Linked DNA regions of Homo sapiens. The protein of the gene in region 2 purifies or fractionates together with the protein of the main gene of each other region. This does not show direct contact. Each region holds a gene or a part of one and is shown on either strand. Other genes may lie near its edges.

The links.
Region 1: the proteins of DSG2 (region 2) and SCCPDH purify together in Homo sapiens (co-immunoprecipitation; one large-scale study listed by IntAct). This does not show direct contact.
Region 3: the proteins of DSG2 (region 2) and DLK1 purify together in Homo sapiens (co-immunoprecipitation; one large-scale study listed by IntAct). This does not show direct contact.

The regions. Positions count from the first base shown.
Region 1 is NC_000001.11:246,762,258-246,765,528, forward strand, and holds part of SCCPDH (saccharopine dehydrogenase-like oxidoreductase), read left to right. Parts: intron 1-1,988; coding exon 1,989-2,100; intron 2,101-3,271.
Region 2 is NC_000018.10:31,515,108-31,518,764, forward strand, and holds part of DSG2 (desmoglein-2 preproprotein), read left to right. Parts: intron 1-3,131; coding exon 3,132-3,167; intron 3,168-3,657.
Region 3 is NC_000014.9:100,733,342-100,736,998, forward strand, and holds part of DLK1 (protein delta homolog 1 isoform 1 preproprotein), read left to right. Parts: intron 1-807; coding exon 808-1,555; 3' UTR 1,556-3,657. UniProt on the Homo sapiens protein: May have a role in neuroendocrine differentiation.

The DNA.
Region 1 (3,271 bases), on a different chromosome or scaffold from region 2:
AAACAACCTAATTCAAAAATGAACAGAAGGACTTGAAAATATTTTCTGTTATTCTTTGGGTTGCCGTTTTACTTTGTGGATAGTGCAGGCTTCTGTCTCGTGGTTGGTAGTGCAGGCTTCCATCTCTTGCTTGAACTTTTCGTAGCATTCCTACGGTTTCTTTCTAATCTGTCTTCCCACTGCTGTCCAAGAGATCTTTCTAAGACACAAAATCTGACCTTGTCATTGCCTTCTTTATAAAATGTTCCTGGCCCACTGCTTTGGCAGTGATTCTTAACTGAGATTTCATATATCAGAATCATGGCCGGGCGCAGTGGCTCACACCTGTAATCCCAGCACTTTGGGAGGCTGAGGGAGGTGGATCACTTAAGGTCAGGAGTTCAAGACCAGCCTGGCCAACAGGTGAAACTTCATCTCTACTAAAAATACAGAAATTAGCTGGACATGGTGGTGCACGCCTGTAGTCCCAGCTACTCAGGAGGCTGAGGCAGGAGAATTGCTTGAACTCAGGAGGTGGAGCTTGCAGTGAGCTGAGATCACACCACTGCACTCCAGCCTGGGCAACACAGCGAGATTCCTTCTCCAAAAAAAAAAAAAAAAAAAAAGAATCACCTAGGAAGCTTTTTTCACTGACACATGCCCTCATCTTGCTTCTGGACGTTCTGATTCAGTAGGTCTGGAGTGGGGCCTGAAAGCATAGAGCAGTGGTTCCCAACTTTGGAAGAGAACCCAAAACAGATGACCAGAGACTCTGGTTCGGTTGGTCTGGAATGCAGCCTGGGCACTGGGGCTCTCTAAATCTGCCCAGTGATGCTAATGTGCTGCCAGGGTTGAGAATCACCACTGCGGAGGAAGGAAGAAGGTTCCAGATTTGAGTGGTTTTGGTACCCACCCCTGGAGCACAAATGGCCGAAAGTCCATCTTCAGAGATGTGAGGCCATCCTAGACCCTTCATGATCTAGTTCTGGATAGCACATAGGATTCATTTTTCATCCAACTTTGATTAATTGATAGTAGCCACCCAGAGACTATGCTGGGTCGGACAATGTGTGTAGCCTGAGAGAGGATTAGAACCCATTAGTGTGGGCGCCATAGCAGGAGATGGGACAGGTGTGGCATGTGTGTCTGACCTTGTCTGTACCTCTTGAATTGTATGTTCTGGAAAGGCTATGCTACTGCATCCCTTCTTCCCTTTAAATAATGGGTTCTCCTTTCTGGAATCCATCTACTTTTGGGGTTTTAAAACAACCATTAAAATGTGTTTGTGTGTGTGTATATATACAGTTCAGAACCATTGCCCTCTGCCCTGGTAGATTAATAACACCCTCCTCTGAGTTATGCCTGTATGTTTTAGTTCATGTCACATTGTTATTTAATCTGTTTATCTCTCTCTCCCCCCCTTTCCTCCTACTAAACTGTAAGCTCCAGCAAAGGCAGTAATTATGTCTCAGGGCCTCAATGGTATCTGACCCTTAGTTGATACTTCATAAAAATGTGTTGATCATGATTGAATTCTTTATCACCTCATTCCTAAATTTAGTGATTGTGAAAGATGCTAGGATAAGTCCTCAAGAATTTAGTTTTTTGAGTCGAATTTTTACATCTTTAAGTGGAACAATTATATACCTATACTCCAGGCCCATATTTCCATTACTTGCTGGCTATTTTTGTCTTGTCGCCTCAAATAGGTATCTAAAACCAGATTTCTATATTCTGCCCCCCGATAAAAACTATCTCCAGATCATCTTTATTTCCTCCCTATTTCTTACCACTCCCCTTCCCCCCAACATCACGCCAGTCTTCAAAACTGACAGCTTCAAAGAATTAGTTTTCGCTCCCTGCTTAAATGATGACGGGATATTCTGGCAGATAAAATAATGTTTTCATCTATTGACAATGTCTCACTTGAAATAGAATAGTCGGTTTTACTATGTTCCAGGAGGAAATGACGTATTTATGAAATGCGCCCTTTGCCTTCTCCTTCACAGATTGATGCTGCCTCATTCACGCTGACATTCTTTGGTCAAGGATACAGCCAAGGCACTGGTACAGATAAGAACAAACCAAATATCAAAATTTGTACTCAGGTGAAAGGACCAGGTATTTCACATATCACTTAAGAATGCTTGGGAATTTTATACTCTTAAGCTATAAAGTACAATGCCATTACAATATATTCTTTTTAAAGCTTAATTGTTTTAGAAATACATTTGTACAAATTAAGTAACTTAAAATTATTCTGTCAAAGGAAGATTGAAATTATTGATATAATCCAATTTTATTAGTGCATCCCTCCCTCTGGCTGTTTTTGGAGTATGATTCAGTAATTCAGAATGGCAAATTTTAATTAGTATTAATAGGAAAAGGGATTGGTTGATATTCACCTGTTTGAATCTCATATGCAAGTAGTGTAATTATAATGTCAGTCAAATCTGTGCTCTAGGATTTCTTTAGAGTCTCTGAACACCCTGACATTGTTTGTAAAATATGTATGCACACGTGCACTTTTCAAGGGAAGGGAATGGCTTCTGATAGGTTGTTAAAAGAATGTTGCCCAAAACGTTCAAGAACTTTTGCTGTACATTTTACAGAACTATGCAGAGACAGACAGGTCCACTTGTGAACTGTGGTATAATTACTGTCAGAGACAGACAGGTCCACTTGTGAACTGTGGTATAATTACTGTCAGAGACAGACAGGTCCACTTGTGAACTGTAGTATAATTACTGTCAGAGACAGACAGGTCCACTTGTGAACTGTGGTATAATTACTGTCAGAGACAGACAGGTCCACTTGTGAACTGTGGTATAATTACTGTCAGAGACAGACAGGTCCACTTGTGAACTGTGGTATAATTACTGTCAGAGACAGACAGGTCCACTTGTGAACTGTGGTATAATTACTGTCAGAGACAGACAGGTCCACTTGTGAACTGTGGTATAATTACTGTCAGAGACAGACAGGTCCACTTGTGAACTGTAGTATAATTACTGTCAGCCCTTTTAGGTCACAGGCTATAATTTTTTATTGAGACGGGGTCTCACTATGTTGCCTAGGCTGGGCTCAAGCAGTCCTCCTGCCTCAGCCTTCTAAAGGGTTGGGATTACAGGCATGAATTGCCATGCCTGGCCCACGGGGGATTTTAATCAAGCCAGATGATAGTATGTTTCCATCTTGCCCTTTTCTGAAATTCCCACCTGACTTTTTAAGGTAAGTTGACTGTATTTTCATTATTTGACAGGATTATAAATGCTAATGTTCCGTTTGTTTA
Region 2 (3,657 bases):
TGTTTGTTTGTTTGAGACAGAGTCTCACTCTGTCGCCCAGACTAGAGTGCAGTGGCGCGATCTCGGCCGACTGCAAACTCTGCCTCCCGGGTTCACGCCATTCTCCTGCCTCAGCCTCTCGAGTAGCTGGGACTACAGGCACCCACCACCACGGGCAGCTAATATTTTTTTGTATTTTTAGTAGAGACAGGGTTTTACCGTGTTAGCCAGGATGGTCTCGATCATCAGACCTCATGATCCGCCTGCCTCGGCCTCCCTAAGTGCTGGGATTACAGGTGTGAGCCACTGTACCCGGCCTAAATATACTAAATTTTAAGGCTGTTCCCTGATGATGTGGACACTGGGACCTCTCTGATCCAGGCACTGATCTTTCTCTTCAAAAATTCCCACCCAAGGAACATGCAGAGAGAAGTGATCTATCTCAGCATTGCTTTCCCTTGCTTTTCATACCATGCCACCTTTGAAAATACATAAATTTGGGGAGCACCACTTTGGTTAGAGACATCTCTGGCCATTGCTAGCTGGGCAAGTTAATAGTAGACAGAATGAAGAAGAGATCATAGATCTGATCATAAAATAGAGAATTAGCCATGATTGTTCATCTGCCCCAGAGAAGCCCACACTAGAAGCTGAACATCTGCTCTCCTTGAGTTTCTCTTTGGAATGGAGAGCCAAGAACATGAACTGACAATGGAAAGGAAAGAAAGAGGCTGAAAGATTCACTTGTGGAATGGACCCTACAGGAAGCTTTCAAATGAATGCAAAGGATGTGAAAGAGACTTTGAAATTTTAGGGAATGCCTTGTTTCCCATGATGTACCAACTAGGGCTTTGTGGATCCATGTGACCATGCAGATGGGAAAAGGCAAACAACTGAGAAAAGCTACACCAAAGACAGAGTCCAGTGAATTAATGCATAAATGGAAGGTGGAGTAGTGGGAGCAATACATATAGACAATAATTTCAATTTGGAATTATAAGTAAGAGAGGGATATAGAGCAATAGATTGTTAACAGAAACAAGAGAGGGATCTGGTTTTTTTTTTAAGATAAGGAAAACCTAAATATATTTGGTTTGCCAATCAGAAGGAAATAAATGTATTGATTAGCCAATGGAGAAGGAAGATAAAAGGTTAGTGGAAGGATTAAGGTTCTTGAAGATAAATGTGGGAGAACAAATAGAGTTGCAAATAAAGCACACAAACGATGGTTTGCCTTGGAAAGGAGTCAGGACACCTCTTCTGTGGGGAAAGAAGGGAAGGAGAGGATGACTGAAGATAGTCTCAGTCAAATAATACATGGGGTCATCTCATAAGAGTGAATAGGTACAGAGGTGTGACTAGAGTCATCTCCTAAAGTTTGGAATGCCTATTTTAGAAATGCAATAAGGGTAAGGCAATGACAAAGTGACGATATAATTTATAGTGTGAGCACACTTTTGAGGATGAAAGGGTTGTTAACAGATGGAATGCCTCACAGCAGGTGTCAACCTAGACTCTTCTGAGCAAATGCAGACATATGGTCACACTAGAAAGGAACCGCCACCCCATGGAAAGAGCAGCTATTTGAGAGCATGAATGTGTAAGGGATCTATTCAGCCACTGTGGCCTCCTCTAGCGATATTGCCAGTACATGGTCAGAACTAAAGAGAATAATAGGTTTCTAGAGTTGAGAGGAAAAGTGAGGCAGGAATAGCAGTCATGAAAATGAAGCCTCCCTGGTGGTCACTGACAACATCTTCAGAGTGGCAGGCAGCAGTCTGCTAGCTGCTCCGGTAGAACTGTGTGCAGCGGTGGAAATGTTTTCTGTCTGCCCTGTCCAAATGGGTAGCCCTTAGCACATGTGGCTGTGGAGCAACTGGATTATTCATTTCAAATAATTGCGGTTAAAATCCAAATAGCCACAAGTAGCTACCATATTAGAAAGTGCTGGTTCAGATTGAGCCAAGAGAAGAAGGAAGCCAGCAGGGAGATTAATGAACTATAAGGAAATCCTGCCATTTGCAGCAAAACAACATGGCTGGAAGTGGAGGTCATTATGTTAACTGAATAAGCCAGGCACAGAAATACAAATACAACATCTTCTCACTTATATGTGGGAGCTAAAAGTTTTGATCTCATGGGCATCGAGAATAGAATGATAGAATCCAGAAACTGGGAAAGGTAGTGGGGAGGTGGGGGAAGAAAAGAATTGATTAATGGGTACAAATATATGGTTTGATAGAAGAAATAAGACCACTAGTTAGAAATAAGTACACTAGTTCGATAGATCAGCAGGGTGACTATAGTTTACAATAACCTATTATACATATCAAAGCAGCTAGAAGAGAATTATTTAAATGTTTCTAGCATAATGAAAAGACAAGTATTTAAGGTAATTGACATCCCAAGTATACTAATTATCTTTACAAATTATATGAATGTATTAAATTATCACATGTATTCCAAAACTATGCACATCTTTAATGCATCAATTTTTAAAATTATTATTTTACAGTGCAAAATATTCAGAAAGCAAGATGGGAGTTTTTTGGGCAAATTTAAGAGTAAGCATAACTGTATTTAGAACAGTACTAGGTCATGATGAAGTCCCAAGTGTGACAGTGCCTATGAAGAACCAAAGAAAAGAGTTGGTGGGACTGAGGATGCTGAGGAACCGAGAAGTCAGAACATGGGCTGTCCGTGTGTGTGTGGTGTGTGTTTTTTTGTGTGTGTATAATGCACACACATCCATAGGGATGGTGGGAGTTAGCTGGGTGTGGGGTACATTACATACTGGTGGCCTCGAGGAAAAGTAAGCAGGTCCTGGAGAACACAAGATAAAAACCATAGGATGCGGAGTAAAGGATGAGAGAATGTCTAAGATTTCACAAGGCAGATTATTTTGTTTGTTTTTTAAGATACTGTTTTCTGGAGGAGTCAGTATGGATCCAGGAGAATATAGATTTCTCCTCGGGCACTTCCCATTAGGGAAGGCAATGGGAAAAATTAGTTTCCTCTTGACAAAGAATAGTAGTAGTGGTTAAACTTTTTTTATGTCTATAATATTCAATGCAGTAGGTTATTCATGAACAATGTTTTCACACTGAATTGAGCAGTAAATTGGCTAAATATCAAATAATTTTATTTTACAGATCTGCTTTAACGTTGGAAGTGGACTTCACTTACAGGTGAGGAAACAAAGGGATTATTTCTGCCTTCTGACTCAGGAGGGTTAATTCCATGGCAAACAGGTTGACTGGGCTTTACTAGATTGAAGACACATGTTGTATTAGACCCAGCCATTCCCATTCAAACAAGTGCAGAGGAGCTTATCCAGGGGTATTCAGTGCAGCAGTTTTTGACAATGTAAATATCCACCAATAGGTGAATGTTAAAACCATTTATGGTACATGAAAGAATGTCCATGACGAGGTGCTGAATGAAAATCGGGGCAAAATAAGATATATAGTGTAAGTCCATTTTTATAGCAAAAAGACCTTTATGCATCTGTGTATATATGTGCAACTGTATAGTTATGAAAAATCATAAAAGATATTAATCAAGCTGTTAATGAATACTTTGTGAGGTATAAATGAAAAAGTAATTTCAATTTTTTGTCATAGAAAATTTTGTTCAAGTAAAAAAAAAAATCAATGACCTAGTGATAACCAGAGTACA
Region 3 (3,657 bases), on a different chromosome or scaffold from region 2:
TTATCGGATGACAAAGGGCTCGCTCGTTTAAAAGCACTTACATTAAATGCTCCTTGTACTCCACTTTGAGCAAACAGCTTTGGTTTGCAAGCTGCACTTGGGTGAATGGACCACTATTAAACAGCCTGGTACAGACGCTGGCTTGTGCCACCGTAGACAGACCTCGTATTGCTTTCTCTTTGAGAGTCCCCAAGCGCTTCCTGCACAATAGCCTGTGGATCCACACCGCTAATAATAATAATAATAATAATGAGGGTTGGCGGCAACAGTGGACATAGGCATGAAGGACGACAGCGGGTCCCGGGATAGAGTGAGGGGCGCCCCTTGCTTGGTTCTTCTGCCCCAGCAGTCCAGGGATGGAGCTAAGGGAAGGGGGCTTGCTCCAGTCCTGGGCTGTCACTGACTTTTCCTCTCCTAGCCTCAGTTTCCCCAGTTGGCTAGTGACTAACCGGTTGGAGACTAACCTCTGGTTGGAGAGGTGCAGTAAGAGGTGGGAGAGGACGTGGGCATCCTGGCATGGGAGGTCGGGTGTGTCCCAGGTTAGCATCGAGATGGGGGTGAGGTGGGCACCCACCCACCCACCCCCAGAGCTACTGGTGAGCTTCTCGCAGACAGGGGTCACGGCCCCGGGCACCTCTCTGTGCCTCCCTGGCTGGCGTTCCCTCCCTCGCTCCCTCATTCACCTGATGTGTTTTAAGCACCTGCCCCTTAGTCAGGCCAGGGACCTTCTGCCCTGAGCCCCGTGCCCTGCAGCGCTGTTGTAGCCTAGCCCCTGAGGCCGTTTACTATGTCCCTGTTGTGTTGCAGCTCCCCCTGCCAGCACGGAGGCACCTGCGTGGATGATGAGGGCCGGGCCTCCCATGCCTCCTGCCTGTGCCCCCCTGGCTTCTCAGGCAATTTCTGCGAGATCGTGGCCAACAGCTGCACCCCCAACCCATGCGAGAACGACGGCGTCTGCACTGACATTGGGGGCGACTTCCGCTGCCGGTGCCCAGCCGGCTTCATCGACAAGACCTGCAGCCGCCCGGTGACCAACTGCGCCAGCAGCCCGTGCCAGAACGGGGGCACCTGCCTGCAGCACACCCAGGTGAGCTACGAGTGTCTGTGCAAGCCCGAGTTCACAGGTCTCACCTGTGTCAAGAAGCGCGCGCTGAGCCCCCAGCAGGTCACCCGTCTGCCCAGCGGCTATGGGCTGGCCTACCGCCTGACCCCTGGGGTGCACGAGCTGCCGGTGCAGCAGCCGGAGCACCGCATCCTGAAGGTGTCCATGAAAGAGCTCAACAAGAAAACCCCTCTCCTCACCGAGGGCCAGGCCATCTGCTTCACCATCCTGGGCGTGCTCACCAGCCTGGTGGTGCTGGGCACTGTGGGTATCGTCTTCCTCAACAAGTGCGAGACCTGGGTGTCCAACCTGCGCTACAACCACATGCTGCGGAAGAAGAAGAACCTGCTGCTTCAGTACAACAGCGGGGAGGACCTGGCCGTCAACATCATCTTCCCCGAGAAGATCGACATGACCACCTTCAGCAAGGAGGCCGGCGACGAGGAGATCTAAGCAGCGTTCCCACAGCCCCCTCTAGATTCTTGGAGTTCCGCAGAGCTTACTATACGCGGTCTGTCCTAATCTTTGTGGTGTTCGCTATCTCTTGTGTCAAATCTGGTGAACGCTACGCTTACATATATTGTCTTTGTGCTGCTGTGTGACAAACGCAATGCAAAAACAATCCTCTTTCTCTCTCTTAATGCATGATACAGAATAATAATAAGAATTTCATCTTTAAATGAGTAAGAGAAATAAGTATGTTATTCTAAAATCTAAACTCAAATGAAATTTCAAAAAAGACCAAAAAAAAACAAGGCAACAGAACCAGGGCTCAGTGCCGACGCCCCTACCCTGGGGGTCTCGGCCACATGGTCCTCGTGAAACCGTTACGAGTGCTGTACATGACCACCCACTGTGCAAAGAGCTACGATTGCTTTCGTTCGTTAATTCTCACACACCACATCCGACTCGCACTCACATCCAGCTCAACATCGCTACCTTTAGATCTTTCCGATTGATTTGAGATTTAGCGGAGTGCAGCGGCTGTGTGTCAGTCAGAGAGAGCCCCAGGTTGGCTGCTGGGGGGCCGGGCCTCTGTGCCAGCCCTGCCACTAACTCGCTGTGTGATCCTTGGCGAGTCCCTATCCCAATCCTGGGCCCACTTTCTCGCCCCTCTCGAGGGAGGGGTTTGAACACCGACCACCATGGTCCTCTCTGGCTCTAAAACTCTGAATTAGGAACGAGGGGGTATGAACCAAAACACTTCCTGACCCCAACAATTGGGATCTGATGAAGACGAATTCTCATCCTGGGATCCGAAAGGTTTTGGCCTATCCTGGATGAACGCTTGATGTTGAAATTTATCCTAACTGTGTTTCTCAAAGTGGGGAGCCTCCTGGCCCACTTCCCTTTTGGGAAAAAATAGCCCCTTTGAGTCATAATGTGCCATCTGGAGTTGCCACTTAGGCAGCCAGCCCTCCCCCACCCCTCTTTGCCCACCCAGAACCCCAACACTATACCTGCCTCTACCCTATAGAGACATCCCTTGAGACTTGAATGTACTTTGAGCCGCAAGTGCCCCTGGCAGAATCTGAGCAGCAACACAGCCCTCACCAAGGTTTTCACAGGGATTAGTGGAAATTGTCACTTGTGGGGCGCTTACTAGTTTTGTGGCAAATGTGGTCCAAGACCTGGCCCACACAGCCATGGGTTTACATTTGTGTTGCTGAGTTAATAATCCTCAGATCTCAAAAGACCTAGCCAGCTTCTGAATTTTGAATTTGACTTTTTTTTTTTTTTTAACAAAGAGCATCTATCTTTTTTGCAAAAATAGAAAGAAATGGGACAGAGCTCTGTTTAGCTTTTCAGCTTTTGGGGTTGGACAGCTAAACAGCCCTTGGGTACCAGATAGGAATATTTTGCTTCTTAGATTATTTGGATAAGAATCTATACTCTTAGCTTTATTGAGCATTGCCTGCCGTGTTTACCTTGCTCCAGGTGTTTATTTCTAAGTCATCATCACCTTCGTCATCTACAGTCAGTCACATCAGTCACCCACACACAACTCACAGTCACCCATCCATTGGTCACCTGCGCCATCGTCATGACACAATATCGACCTCATCACCTCATCGTCCTCCAGCCACTACCCAAGCCCCCTCATCCTGACTCAAAGCCCGACCAGCATCTGCCCAAACTCCCAACACCCCACTCTCCCCACCAAGCCATTGGTCTCCTCACTCCCGGTCCTTTGTCATCCTGATTCCAAGCCCCGCCCCACCCTCACCGCCTCCTCCGCATCATCTGCACTCTGCAGAGCCCCTCCTACCCGCCTCTGTCCCCACCAGGCCCCTCCCTACCGTCAGCCCTGAGTCCCACAGCACGCGTCCCCAGCCCCTCCCAGCCTCACCCCAAAAACCCTGTCACCCCACCGACCACCATCATCACTGGCAAGCCCCTTCCCCTTCTCCAGCTCCCGTCCCCACTACCCCTCCCGTCCCCCAATCCTTCCCCTCCTGTTAGCCCACCCCTCCTTTCCTATCACCCCCACCTTTCCCTTCCCATTCTCCCCACCCTTCCCCTCCGATCCCACCACCCTTCCCTTCCGATCCCCG